Homo sapiens: one gene and its partner. Changing the gene in region 2 together with the main gene of any one other region gives a genetic interaction. Each region holds a gene or a part of one and is shown on either strand. Other genes may lie near its edges.

Region 1 (7,692 bases), on a different chromosome or scaffold from region 2:
CCCTTAGATCGACAAGCAGCATCCAAAGACACCAAAAACTTAGGCTCATCAAGTATTAACTTCCTGCCTCAGCCTCCCAAGTAGCTGAGATTACAGGTATGTGCTAGCATCCTACTTATTGTTCACTCTGATAGAATTTTTTTTTCTTTGAGATGAAGTTTTGCTCTTGTCGCCCAGGCTGGAGTGCAATGGCATGATCTTGGCTCACTGAAACCTCTGCCTCCCAGGTTCAAGCAATTCTCCTTGCTCAGCCTCCCGAGTAGCTGGGATTACAGGCTACTTTTTGCAAGGCTAATTTTTGTATTTTTAGTAGAGACGGGGTTTCACAATGTTAGCCAGGCTGGTCTCGAACTCCTGACCTCAGGTGATCCACCCGCCTTGGTCTCCCAAAGTGCTGGGATTACAGGCGTGAGCCACCGCACCCAGTCTAGGTCAAGTTTTTCATCTCTTTCCTTTCCAAGGAGTTAAAGCTGAATTTCAAATTTTACAGTGAAATACACAATTCTAATTTTCTTTCTTTCTTTTTTTTTTTTTTGAGATGCAGTTTTGCTCCTGTTGCCCAGGCTGGAATGCAGTGGCACAATCTTGGCTCATCGCAACCTCTGCCTCCCAGGTTCAAGTGATTCTCCTGCCTCGGCCTCCCAAGTAGCTCGGATTACAGGCACACACCACCATGCCCAGCTAATTTTTGTATTATTATTATTTTTTTCTTAGTAGAGATGGGGTTTTTCCATGTTGGTCAGGCTGGTCTCTATCTCCCGACCTCAGGTGATCCGCCCATCTCGGCCTCCCAAAGTGCTGGGATCACAAGCATGAGCCACTGCACCGGGCCCACAATTCTAATTTTCAAATATATCTTCCTCCTGGAGGAGTGATATTCCAGTTTTGGGTGCAATCCTGATGTAGAGCCCAACTGTCCTGTGAAGAGAGTCAGCTGTTAAAAGGAAACCAAAAAATCAAGGTAGCTCTAGCTGTCCAATTTTACAAGTTTTCAACAGACTTGATGAGGGGTGAGCTAAAGGCGGTCAATGCTTTATTGTCTGTAACTCACTGGCACTGGCATTTCTAGAGTTGCTCACGTTCCCCCTTTTGGTGACTCACAGCACTTCAACATGTTGCCACAGCCAAGGAAAAAAGGAAATCAAGTCAGACAATGGAGGAATCACAGGATTTCCCTCTTCACATCCCCAGGTAGATGAGGTCATTCAATGAGTGTGTTTCCAAGGCTCCACAAATTCCCACACCCTCACCAGTGTTTAAACCTGAATGTTTTATCTGATAACTTTTTCTAATTTCACCAAGTAAGCTTATATATGTCTTAACTGTGAACTCCTGATAAGCACAAATTTTGTCTTGTGATAATTTATTTTTTTCTTTTTTGAGACAGGGTCTCACTCTGTCACCCAGGCTGGAGTGCAGTGATGCGATCTCAGCTCACTGCAATCTCCACTTCGTGGGCTCAAGTGATCCTCCAACCTCAAACTCCCCAGTAGCTGGGATTACAGACACGCGCCACCCCGCCCGTTTAACTTTTTTGTATTTTTAGTAGAGACGGGGTTTCACCATGTTGGCCAGGCTGATCTCGAACTCCTGACCTCAGGTGATCCGCCTGCCTCGGCCTCCCAAAGTGCTGGGATTACAGGAGTGAGCCACTGCACCGGCCAGCGTTTCTTTCTTCAATCACACTCCACCTTGTCTGGTTTGTAGCGCCATCAACAAAACACAGTACGTAAGGATGGACAGCCACAGGCCACGACAACCGGCTCATCAGAAGCGATTTTTTTTTTTTTTTTTTTTTTTTTTAGATGGAGTCTTGCTCTGTCGCCCAGGCTGGAGTGCAATGGCGTGATCTCGGCTCACTGCAACCTCTGCCTCCCGGGTTCAAGCGATTCTCCTGCCTCAGCCTCCTAAGTAGCTGGAGCTACAGGCTCACGTTACCATGCCCGGCTGATTTTTGTATTTTTAGTAGAGACGGGGTTTCACTATGTTGGCCAGGCTGGTCTCGGACTCCTGACCTCAAGCAATCCGCCCGCCCTGGCCTCCCAAAGTGCTGGAATTACAGGCGTGAGCCACCGACCCGGCCCAGACGCGATTTAAATGGCATGACACAGGCAGGCCTCGTGCAAAGACTGCAAGGAGGTCCCGGCAGCTTTTGCAGGGCAATTAATCCACCCAGAGCACTGCGCTCAGAAAGTAATAGGTAAACCCGCGTCCGGACTAACCGGCTGCCCCCACACTTGATCCCTCCCAGTCCGACTCTGCTCCAGGGCGTACCAGGGTTCACTCGTGAAGTCACGACACCCACTCAAGGGGCACTTCCTATAGAGATAAGGGCATTAGAGGAAGGGCAGAGCCCCGGTCAATGCCAACAGCCCGGGAAACAGCCAAGCCGGGCTCCAATCTCTGCCGGCATCCCCTGTCTGCACCGCCGACGCCCCCAGCTACGACCCCGGGGGTCACCTCGCCCAGCATAGCCGTGACGCTGGGAGAGGGTGGGCCCAACGGGGACGCCAAAGAGAGCCATTCAGGCCTCCCCGCGCCCCCGGGGAGACGACTTCTGGAGAGCGGCGTCCGCGGTTTCGCCCTCCCCTGACAGCCCCTCCACGCCCTTCTTCGTCCTTCTGCCCGGCCTCACCCAGCTTCCGGCCGCCCCCGGCCGGGTCTCCCCTCAGACCGGCGCAGGGGACCCAAAGGGCTGTGGCCCGGCCAAGCCCAGGTCCGAAGGCCTGGACCGAGGCAGGGCCCGCGAAGGACGCAGCGCGGTCCGAGAAGCCGGGCGGAAGGAAGGCCCCGGGAGGGCGCGGACAGCTCACCTGCCGCAGGTCGCTGTCGCCTGTCCGCCAGCCTCCAGTCAGCGTGCCCGTCAGCGACTCCCTCAGGCGCCGCAGTCCCTGCAGCCCAGCGGACTGGCGCGAGGCCGGCGCAACGTGGGCACGCAGCGCGGGGCGGGGCCTAGAGATGACACGCCCCTTGTAGCTGACACGCCCTTGCCGGGGGCGGGAAGCGGAGTATGTGGCTTTCCCCAGGTCTCTGGAGGTTGCAGGCTCAGGCTCTGCTCAGCGGGGTAAGTAGGCGTGCTTCGGCAGGAACACTAGTGTTCACAAGAGCCGAGGTGTGTGAGGGTGCCTCAGGGTTGAGCACTTTTCTTCCCCAGTGTGGTTTAATCCTTGTACATCCACTCAGTGATGTAAGAAATAGGGTTGTCAACCGTGGCACCACCCACTTGGTCACTTGCCAATGCAATCTGCGAAACTGAGTCTCAACTCTGACACCTCGGTTACCAGTCTTGTATCTGATCTCCCTGTTGCATTATTCGCATTCTTCAAACAGCGGCCAGAATGACAGAATGATTTTTCTTTTTTTGAGACCGAGTTTTGCTCGTCGCCCAGGCTGGAGTGCAATGACGTGATCTCGGCTCACTGCAACCCCCTTCTCCCGGGTTCAAGCGATTCTCCTGCCTTAACCTCCCGAATAGCTGGGATTACAAGCGCCTGCCACCACGCCCGGCTAATTTTTGTATTTTTAGTAGAGACGGGGGTTTCACCATGTTGGCCAGGCTGGTCTCGAACTCCTGAGCTCAGGTGATCCACCCGCCTCGGCCTCCCAAATCACTGCAATTACAGGCCACCGCACCCAGCCCAGAGTCATTTTTTAGTTTTACTGAACACAAAGAAATTACTGAAATCGTGGGCCGGGTGTGGTGGCTCATGTCTGTAATCCCAGCACTTTGGGAGCCTGAGGCGGGAAGATCACTTGAGGTCAGCAGTTCGAGACCAGCCTGGCCAGCATGTTGAAACCCCGTCTCTACCAAAAATACAAAAAAATTTTAGCCGGGCATGGTGGCTCCTGCCTGTAATCCCAGCTACTCAGGAAACTGAGGCAGGAGAATCACTTGAACCCAAGAGGCGGAAGTTGCAGTGAGCCAAGATCGCACCACCACTGCACTCCAGCCTGGGCCACAGAGCAAGACTCCACCTTGAAAACAAAAAACAAAAACAAAAAAAAACTGAAATCAGTGCAAGTAGCAGCAACTTCAGAAGTGAGTTAGGGCTGGGCACGGTGGCTCCCACCTGTACTCCCAGCACTTTGGGAGGCTGAGGTGGGTGGATCACTTTAAGTCAGGAGTTCGAGACCTGCCTGGTCAACCTGGTGAAACCCCGTCTCTACTAAAAAATACAAAAATTAGCCGGGCTTGGTGGCACATGCTTGTAATCCCAGCTACTCGGGAGGCTGAGGCAGGAGAATCTCTTGAACCCGGGGGGCGGAGGTTGCAGTAAGCCGAGATCGCGCCACTGCACACCAGCCTGGGCGACGGACCAAGACACTGTCTCAAAAAAATAAAAATAATAAAATTTTAAAAGTGAGTTAGGCAAAGAAAATATCAAGCGGACAAGGCCTCAAGGGATAAGACTCATGGACATAGCTTTAATTATCTTTGCCTGACGCCCAATACCTGAAAATTAAGATGTTCATGCAAGATAAAGAGGTAATTTTTCTCCTCCTCCCAGTCATCACCCGTAGCATCCGGTTAAGAGGCTCTCCACCTCGCTCATTTTGGTCTAACTGGATTTACACAAACTCACTGTGCACGTGCCTGGGGCGGGCAAACCCGGAAACGACGCCGAGTCCCGCGGGATCCAGGAGGAGCCAACTGCGCCGGAGGAGGGGTTTCGGCCGACACGTCGGGATTGGCGGCTGCAGCCAGGGGTCCTCCGACGCTGGGCTTCCGTGAGCGGCGCTCTGCCAGGTGGGGCCGGAGCTGCGGGGAGGGAGTTGGCGCCTAGCGCGCAGCTCCATCCCCGCCTCTGCAGTGGACTCGGCCGCAGAATCGGGGTCCCGGGCTCCTGGAACTTGTCCCGCCCAGGCCGCGGCGAGGAGGTCACTCCAGCCGGTGGGACCCGGGCCGGGGGGCGGGTGACTGGAACCGGGGGAGGCGGGAAGGAGGAGGGGATCGGGCCCAAGGGACACGAGGTGGGTCGCGGGACCCCGATATCTCGGGACAGGCGTCTTGCCGCTCCGGGCCCAGCCGCCCCCTTCGACACATACTCGATGCATAGACAATGGGGGTGTCCTTTGTCGCTCCTGGCGGGAACCCCGGCCCCACCCCCAACTCCACGCCTCCCATTACCCCCAGATCTCTGGACCGGATTCGTCCCATTCTCGTCCTCATGGTGGACAAGAAACTGGTGGTGGTTTTCGGAGGCACAGGTGAGCCAAACCCCAGACTGGGGCCCTTGCAGAGCCAGGGCGCCTAGCCCTGAAGACCGCCCGTCCTGGGGTCTGCAGGGAGGGGTAAGGTCACTGGGACCCCCGACCCAGGTTGGGGCTGTGGTCGCAGGAACGAGGCCCAAATTGCTTTCCAATTTTTTTTTTTTTGGACGGAGTTTTGCTCTGTCACCCAGGCTGCAGTGCGATGGCACGATCTCGGCTCATTGCAACCTTTGCCTCCCGGGTTGAAGCGATTCTCCTGTCTCAGCCTCCCGAGTAGCTGGGATTACAAGGGCATGCCACCACGCCCGGCTAATTTTTGTATTTTTAGTAGAGACGGGGTTTCATCATATTGGTCAGGCTGGTCTCAAACTCCTGACCTCAGGTGATGACCCGCCTCGGCCTCCCAAAGTGCAGGTATTACAGGCATGAACCACCACGCCAGACCTGCTTTCCAAATTAAAAAAAAATGAGTTACTTAACTTATTTGAATAGGAGTACTTGAACATGATACCAAAATTAAATCTTCTTCCTAGCCTCCTCTTCCACCTCATCTATTGCTGTTACCAAGTTTCTTGAATATCCTGCCAGAGTAGATAACATGTTATCATTTTTTCAAATGATAGCATATTATTTCATTCCTATTTTTTCTTATTTATACATATTTAATATCTCTAACAGCTTTATTGAGATATAATTCACGTACTATACAATCTACCTGTTTAAAGTGTGCAACTCACTGGTTTCTAGTGTATTCATAGAATTGTACAACCATCACCACAATCAATTTTAGAAAATTTCCATCACTCCAAAAAGAAACTCTGGCCCAGGTGCAGTGGCTCAACCCTGTAATCCCAGCACTTTAGTTGGACCAAATGGGCAGATCGCTTGAGCTGAGGTGTTTGAGACCAGCCTGAACAACAGGGCAAAATCTCGTCTCTACAAAAAAATACAAAAATTAGTGGGGCGTGGTGTCATGCACCTATAGCTACCTAGGAGGTTGAGGTGGGAGGATCACCTGAGTCCAGCAGGTCAAGGCTGCAGTGACCTGATTGTGCCACTGCACTCCAGCCTGGGCAACAGAGTGAGACCTGATCTCAAAAAAAAAAAAAAAAAAAAGAACTCCATGAACCCGTGAACAGTTACTCCCCATTCTTACTCCTCCCAGCCAACCCCTAGAAAGCTCCAATCTACTTTTGGTTTCTATGGATTTGTCTATTCGGGACATTTCATATGAATAAAATCATAATATGTAGCCTTTTCTCTCTGGCTTCTTCAGTTAGCATGTTTTCAAGGTTTGTTCATGTTGTAGTGTGTGTCCGGGCTTTACTCTTTTTTTTTTTTTTTTTGAGACAGAGTCCCGCTCTGTTGCCCAGGCAGCAGTGCAGTGGCGTGATCTCTGCTCACTGCAACTTCTGCCACTCGGGTTCAAGCGATTCTCCTGTCTCACCCTCCTGAGTAGCAGGGACTACAGGCGTGAGCCACCATGCCTGGCTAATTTTTGTATTTTTAATAGAGATGGGGTTTTGCCATGTGGCCAGGCTGGTCTCAAACTCCTGACCTCAGGTGATCTGCCCACTTCAGCTTCCTAAAGTGCTGGGATTAGAGGCTTGAGCCACCGCGCCCGGCCAACTTTACTTTTTTATTTTTAAGACAGAGTTTCTCTCTTGTTGCCCAGGCTGGAGTGCAATGGTGTGATCTCTGCTCGCTGCAACCTCTGCCTCCCGGGTTCAAGCAATTCTCCTGCCTCAGCCTCCCAAGTAGCTGGGATTACAGGTGTGCACCACCACACCCAGCTAATTTTGTATTTTTTAGTAGAGACGGGGTTTCACCATGTTGGTCAGGCTGGTCTCGAACTCCTGACAGCTTTACTTATTTTTATGGCTGAGTAATATTCCACCGTATGGATAGACTATATTCTGTTTGTCCATTCGTCAGTGGATGGATACTTGATTTATTTCCACTTTTTGGCTATTATGAATAATGCTGCCATGGAACATTGGTGTACACTTTTTTCTGAGTCAGGGTCTTGCTCTGTTGCCCAGGCTGGAGTGCAGTGGCTCAATCATCACTCACTACAGCTTTGACTTCCAAGCCTCAAGCAATCCTCCTGACTCATTCGCCTGAGTAGCTGGGACTTCAGATGAGCGCTAACAGGCCCAGCTGATTTTTTAATTTTTTGTAGAGACTGGGTCTCACCCTGCTGCCTAGGCTGGTCTCAAACTCCTGGCCTCAAGCAAAACCCATCCCCCTTACCCTCCCAAAGTGCTTAGATTACAGCTATGAGCTACTGTGCCCGGCCTCAGTCCTTATTTTTGATGCATTTCTGTGTAAATTGCAGATATGTGTACACCGCCCTTCCATACTAAAGCATGCATAACATTAGCTAGAATTCAGTATTTGTTTATAGATTATTTTTAATTATGAGGTAAAATATACATATAATAAAGAATTTTTTTTTTTTTTTTTTTTTGGAGACAGGGC
Region 2 (7,019 bases):
ATCTTCTGGCCGGGCACGGTGGCTCACGCCTGTAATCCCAGCACTTTGGGAGGTTGAGGCGGGCAGATCACCTGAGGTCAGGAGTTCGAGACCAGCCTGGTCAACATGGCGAAACCCCATCTGTACTAAAAATACAAAAATTAGCTGGGAGTGGTGGTGCGCGCGTGTAGTTCCAGCTATTGGGAAGGCTGAGGCAGGAGAATTGCTTGCATCTGGGAGGCGGAGGTTGCAGTGAGGCAAGATCCCGCACTGTACTCTAGCCTGAGCGACGGAGTAAGACTCCGTCTCAAAAAAAAAAAAAAAAAAGGCCTGGCGCGGTGGCTTACACTTGTAATCCCAGCACTTTGGCAGGCTGAGGCGGGCGGATCACGAGGTCAGGAGATCGAGACCACGGTGAAACCCCGTCTCTACTAAAAATACAAAAAAATTAGCCAGGCGTGGTGGTGGGCACCTGTAGTCCCAGCTACTCGGAGAGGCTGAGGCAGGAGAATGGTGTGAACCCGGGAGGCGGAGGTTGCAGTGAGCCGAGATCGCGCTACTGCACTCCAGCCTGGGCGACAGAGTGAGACTCCGTCTCAAAAAAAAAAAAAAAGCATCTTCCCATAGGGCGATTGTGAGATTGAGGGAGGTGCAGGCTGGGCAGGAGCTGATGATCTCGGTGCCCATACGGGGGCTGACCAGGCTGGTGCTCAGTGGGGTAGGAGGGTTGCCAGAGGGCTGTTTCCCACAGCTTGCCTCCTGGATCTTTGTGGAGAGGCAGGCAGCAGTGGGGTCAAGGGGCCACAGATTTCCTCAAAGGGCCCTGCTGCATCACTCAAACGGAGGCAAACTTCACCACCCACTTTCTAGGTCTGTGAGCTGGGAGGATGACATGTGAAATGGGGCCAGGCATGGTGGCTCAAGCCTGGAATCCTAGCACTTTGGGAGGCTGAGGCCAGAGGATCGCTTGAGCCCAGGAGTTCAAGACCAACCCAGGCAACATAGTGAGACCTTGTCTCTCCAAATCAAAAAATTACTGGGTGTGGTAGCACATGTCTATAGTCCCAGCTACTCAAGAGGCTGCGGTTGGAGGATCACTTGAGCCCAAGAAGTTGAGCCATGATTGTACCACTGCACTCCAGCCTGGGTGACAGTGAGACCTGTCTCTTAAAAAAATAAAAAAATAAATAAATAAATAAATAAATAAATGTGACAATGGGTGTGTGGAAACAGTATCTGGTAGGCTCAGTGTAGGTGTTTAGTAAATGTTTCTCTTCCCCTGGAAGATGACAGATGCTTAGAGTCCTCTACTGGTAGGGGAGGCCTCTGTGGCCAGGTAGGTAACCCAGGTGATTGAAGGTGGCCAGGAAGTCAGATGGTGAACAAGGAGGGCAGCACAGCTCAGTATCAGCCAGACACTAATAGGGAGCAGAGGCCCCTGGGGGAAATGGGAGTGTCCATACCATTGTCTCCAGATCTGTTTTTCCAAGAGAAGCCAGAGGTAACCACAGCTCCTGACTTCTAACAGTTGGCAGCTAATTCAAATTTTAAATGTGTGGGCCAAACACACCTGCAGGCCAGATCCAGCTGTGTGAGATCTGTGCACTGTGATCTACTGAGGCCCCCTCCTCAGGGAGCTAGATTTCCTCAGGGTGCCTGTGGAGAGATGAAGGCACTGGCTGTGGAGCCTGATGGGCCTGGGTTCCAGTCCTGGCCTCACCACTTTGAGCTGTGTGATCTCGGGCAACACCCTGAAGCTCTTGGATCCCCTGTTCTCTCTGGGCGGGGACATTGTCTGCCTCACAGGGCAATTGTGAGGGTTGAAGGAGATGTTACGGGCGGTTGTAAGCAGCGGGTTACAAAGCTGCTCCTCTCCCCATACAGGGGGTGAGCTTCATTCATTCATTCCTCTTATGTCAGTGTCCTCCAGTGGGACCCCCCATGCCAAGGCCTGCCGCTCATGCTAGACCACCCTGGTAAAGTGGACAGGACAGGCTGGGCCCCAGGTTCTTCCCACGGAGTCATCAAACATTTGGATGTCCAGAGCATGCTGTCTAAAAGGCCTCTCTGTGCCCCCAGCACCCGCATTCTGTATGCTGTGCCTGAGCCCACCTTTTCTCCCTGGGCAGAGACAGCTGTGGCAGCAGAGCCCAAGCAGAGAGAGCTCCTCTCTCTCTAAATGGGCTCTTGTGAGGATCAATTAGGATGACGTTTATTCGCCCTGTGCCAAATCCCTGGCACAGAGAGTGTGCTCACAATGGCCATGGTGGCTGCTACAGTAGCAGTGGTGATTTGGGTTCTTTGTGGTCCTGGTGTGCTACTCATTTAACGTTTATTGAGAACGGACTGTGGTCCAGGCGCTGTTCTAGGTACTGAAGATAGAGCCATGCAGACAAAGTCCTGCCCTCACAAAACTTACAGTTCAGGGTGGAAAGACATGATAAGCCAAAGAGGGCTCTGGGACATGTGGGGTATCAGAAGGCGGTGAGTGCTGTGGAGAAAAATGAAAAGGGGATCGGGGCCGGGCGTGGTGGCTCACGCCTGTAATCCCAGCACACTGGGAGGCTGAGGCAGGTGGATCACCTGAGGTCAGGAGTTCGAGACCAGCATGACTAACATGGTGAAACCTCGTCTCTACTAAAAATACAAAATTAGCCGGGTGTGGTGGCGCATCCCTGTAATCCCAGCTACTTAGGCTGAGGCAGCAGAATCTCTTGAACCTGGGAAGTGGAGGTTGCGGTGAGCCGAGATTGTGCCACTGCACTCCAGCCTGAGTGACCAGAGCAAAACTCCACCTCAAAAAAAAAAAAGAGGGGATTGGGAGTGGGAGCATTTGCCATTTTAAACAGGGCTTGGTGAAGGCCTTGCTGATGAGGTGGTATTTGAGTAATGAACAGAAAAAGACCGGGGAGCGAGTCACAGGCGTCCGAGAGCAGTGCCCACCCAGGCCCGAGGCGAGAGGGCACCTGGATGGTTTGAGGCCAGCATGGAGGCCAGTGTGGCTGGTGGAGAATGAGGGGTTGGGGCTGGGGAACTGAGCGGGGCGGGGCGGGGTGGGGTGTTGTGGCGAGAGAAAGGACTCTGAGGGAGATGGAGATAGGGTGCATCTGGCAGGTGACTCTGGTCACTTTTCTTTTTTTTTGAGAGAGAGTGTTGCCCTGTCACCCAGGCTGGAGTGCACTGGAGTGCAATGGCACCATCTCAGCTCACTGCAACCTCCACCTCCCGGGTTCAAGCAATTCTCCTGCCTCAGCCTCCTGAGTAGCTGGGATTACAGATGCTCGCCACCATGCCTGGCTAATTTTTGTATTTTTAGTAGAGGTGGGGTTTCACCATATTGGCTAGGCTGGTCTTGAACTCCTGACCTCAAATGATCCACCCACTTTGGCCTCCCAAAGTGCTGGGATTACAGATGCCCACCACCATGCCTGGCTAATTTTTGTATTTTTAGTAGAGGCGGGGTTTCACCATATTGGCTAGGCTGGTCTTGAACTCCTGACCTCAAATGATCCACCCACTTTGGCCTCCCAAAGTGCTGGGATTACAGGCCTGGGCCATCACGCCAAGCCGACCCTGGCCATTCTCTTGCTGGGGTGAGAATAAACTCCAGAGGGTGAAGGGGAGGCAGGGACACTGCCAGGAGACTTGTGCAGTAAAATCTGCTGGAGGCGGGCAGCGGGTGGTAGAGGTGAGGAGTAAGAAGCAGTTGGATACCAGACATATTGAAGGGATGGATATGGTGATGGAGTCGGCAGCGACTGGAAGGCTTTGGGTGCTGTGGGTGACTGAGGTGGGGCAGCCTCGGGGAGGAGCAGTTGTTCGGAGGTTGATCTCAGCTGCACTCAGTGGAAATGCCTGTTGGACAGTTCAGAGGAGGTGTGGTGAGGCTGGTAGATAGGAGGATCGTAATTGGAGTTGAGAGTTGAGATTCACACTTGGGGCTATTTAAATCCTTGAGACTTTGGCTAGGGGCAATGGCTCATGCCTGTAATCCTAGCACTTTGGGAGGCCAAGGTGGGTGGATCACTTGAGGGCAGGAGTTCAAAACCAGCCTGGCCAACATGGTGAAACCCCATCTCTACTAAAAATACAAAAAAATTAGCCGGGCATAGTGGCGCGCGCCTGTAGTCCCAGCTACTCAGGAGGCTGAGACAGGAGAATTGCTTGAACCCGGAAGGCGGAGGTTGCAGTGAACCGAGATCGCGCTACTGCACTCCAGCCTGGACGACAGAGCGAGACTGTCTCAAAAAAAAAAAAAAAAAATTGCTTGAGACTGATGTCGTCAAGAGAGCAAGTATAATTTACATTTTTGTAGAGATGAGGTCTTGTTGTGTTGCCCAGGCTAGCCTTCAACTTGATCCTCCCCCCTTGGCCTCCCAAAACACTGGGATTACAGGTGTGAGCCACTGTACCTGGCCATGAGAGTGAGTGTAGTTTCAAAGAGGAAGCTGGCCGGGTGCGGCACTTTGGGAGGCCGTGGCAGGCAGATCACATGAGCCCAGGAGTTCGAGACCAGCCTGGGCAATATGGTGAAATCCCGTCTCTACAAAAAATACAACAATTAAATGGGTGTGGCGGTGTGCACCTGTAGTTCCAGCTACTCTGAAATCTGAGGTGGGAGAATTGCTTGAGCCTGGTAGGTTGATGCTGCAGTGAGCCGTGATCTTGCCACTGCACTCCAGCCCAGGTGACATAGAAAGCCCTGTCTCAGAAAAGAAAAAAAAAAGAAAAGTGGAAGCTGTCCCAGGCCTGAGCAGGGCGGGGTAGGCACATGGGAGACAGCCCTCATGCCCGTGGTCACATGGCAGGCACAGTGGCTAAGTGTGCAGTGACTGTTTTCCTTTTTCCTTTTTTGAAACGGAGTCTCCCTTTGTTGCCCAGGCTGGAGTGCAGTGGAGCGATCTCGGCTCACTGCAATCTCCACCTCCTGGGTTCAAGTGATTCTCTTGCCTCAGCCTCCAGAGTAGCTGGAACTACAGGTGTGTGCCACCACGCCCAGTTAATTTTTGTATTTTTAGTAGAGACGGGGTTTCACCATGTTGGCCAGGATGGTCTTGATCTCTTGACCTCGATATCTGCCTGCCTCAGCCTCCCAAAGTGCTGGGATTATAGGCGTGAGCCACCACACCCAGCCTCAGTGACTGTTTTCTTGCAGGTGACACACCATGTCTCGAAGGGTGCTGTATGGTTTGGTGGCATCCCTGACCCTCAGAGCTTAGAGAGATGAGGAGTGGCCTTGGAGGCAGGAGGAAGACAAGGAGAGGGTGGGGGCGCCAGCCCAGGGAAGGAGGCATCTAGGCAGGGCCACAGCCAGTGGCCTCAGTTCTGCTAAGGGGCCAGTGGGGGTGGGGCGCTGGGTTTGCCCCCTCTGATTGAGGGCGTTCAGCTGACCTTGGCTAGAGCAAAAGCCTCCCGAGGGAGAAAAGAGGTGGAGGCAGCACGGACAGCTTCATGAGGAGTTTTGCTGTAAAGAAAGCAGAGAAATTGAAGGGTAGCCAGACAGAAACGTAAAGTCCAGGATTCCCTTCCTTTTAAAGAAGTAGCTGAATGTGTATATGCTGTTGGGTCTAAACCAGTAGGGTGGGAAAAATTGATGATGGGGGTACTTCCTAGGATGATGTCTTTTTTTTTTGAGATAGGGTCTCACGCACTCTGTCACCCACGCTAGAGTGTAGTGGTGCCATCACAGCTCACTGTAGCCTCGACCTCCTGGGCCCACACAGTCCTCCGACCTCAGCCTCTCGAGTGGCTGGGACCACAGGATGCACCACCATGTGCAGCTCACTTGCTTATTTTTCAAGATGGAGTTTTGCTCTGTTGCCCAGGCTGGAGTGCGATGGCGCAATCTCGGCTCACTGCAACCTCTGCTTCCCGGGTTCAAGCGATTCTCCTGCTTCAGCCTCCCGAGTAGCTGGGATTACAGGCATGCACCACCATGCCGAGCTAATTTTATATTTTCAGTAGAGATGGAGTTTCGCCATGTTGGTCATGCTGGTCTCGAACTCCCGACCTCAGGTGATCCAACCACCTCAGCCTCCCAAAGTGCTGCGATTACAAGCGTGAGCCATCGCGCCCAGCCACTTATTTTTTTTAGAGAGACGGGGGTCTCACTGTGTTGCCCAGGCTGGTCTCGAACTCCTAGGCTTAAGCGTCCTCCCACCTTGGCCTCCCAAAATGTTGGGATTATAGGTGTGAGCCATGGCGCCCAGCTTGGAATGATGTGCTTGAGCCTGAGGGTGGGGGTGGGCTAGTGTGGAGTGGAGAGGCAGCTTAGGTGGCAGCTGGAACAGATCCTCTGAGGATTGTGGGAGGAGGCCAAAGGCAGATGTGCTGGTGGGGGCTGAGGAAAAAAGACAAGGTCATCAGCTGGGGGTAGGAGCAAGATGGGTAGGGGAGAGGGGAGGGTGCCCAGGCCAGGGGAGTGAAGTGTGCTTGCCAGGTGAAGTGTGCGTGGTGGGTGGGCACCTGTAATCCCAGCTACTTGGGAGGCTGAGGCAGGGGAATCGTTTGAACCCGGGAGGTGTAGGTTGCAGTGAGCCGAGATCGCGCCACTGCACTCCAGCCTGGGCAACAAGAGCAAAACTCTGTCTCAAAAAAACAAGTAGAGGAGGGAGGCTGTTTCTAGCCCCAGGAGGGCTGCGGGCAAGGCTTAGAGGTGGGGGAACTCTTCTCAGTGTGGCGGGAGCGGGGCTGAGCTGGGCTGTGCAGAGGGCCCCAGCCACCTGGTTGAGGCGTGGAGGCCAGCACTCCACCCTGGCCCTGACTTGCTTGCCCTGAAGTTCTCTTGGGCTGAAAGACTGGAGGAAACGCATTGCTCAAGGACATTCACTCACCTGTTGTTGTACAGTCCTGTAGGCCCCGCAGAACTTTAGTGACCCATGCAACTAGTTTGTCCTTAAGTGCCCAGCTTCCTGCCGTCTTTTGGGAGGACTCTGGGCAGTGGGCCGCTCCCATTGCCACATTCAGCAGCCTGTTTCAGGGACCCAGGGTGGCAGGTGGCTGCTGGGAGCTCAGTTGCCACCTTTGGAGTGTGACCTTTG

What was found. Genes that interact genetically often act in the same process or in processes that back each other up.
Region 1: of OTUB1 (region 2) and NMRAL1, changing one suppresses a phenotype caused by changing the other (phenotypic suppression), as found in Homo sapiens cells (one study listed by BioGRID).

Annotation. Positions count from the first base shown.
Region 1 is NC_000016.10:4,471,609-4,479,300, reverse strand, and holds the start of NMRAL1 (nmrA-like family domain-containing protein 1), read left to right. Parts: upstream 1-4,675; 5' UTR 4,676-4,747; exon of another isoform or gene 4,748-4,891; intron 4,892-5,134; 5' UTR 5,135-5,168; coding exon 5,169-5,208; intron 5,209-7,692. UniProt on the Homo sapiens protein: Redox sensor protein. Undergoes restructuring and subcellular redistribution in response to changes in intracellular NADPH/NADP(+) levels.
Region 2 is NC_000011.10:63,989,438-63,996,456, forward strand, and holds part of OTUB1 (ubiquitin thioesterase OTUB1), read left to right. Parts: intron 1-7,019. UniProt on the Homo sapiens protein: Hydrolase that can specifically remove 'Lys-48'-linked conjugated ubiquitin from proteins and plays an important regulatory role at the level of protein turnover by preventing degradation.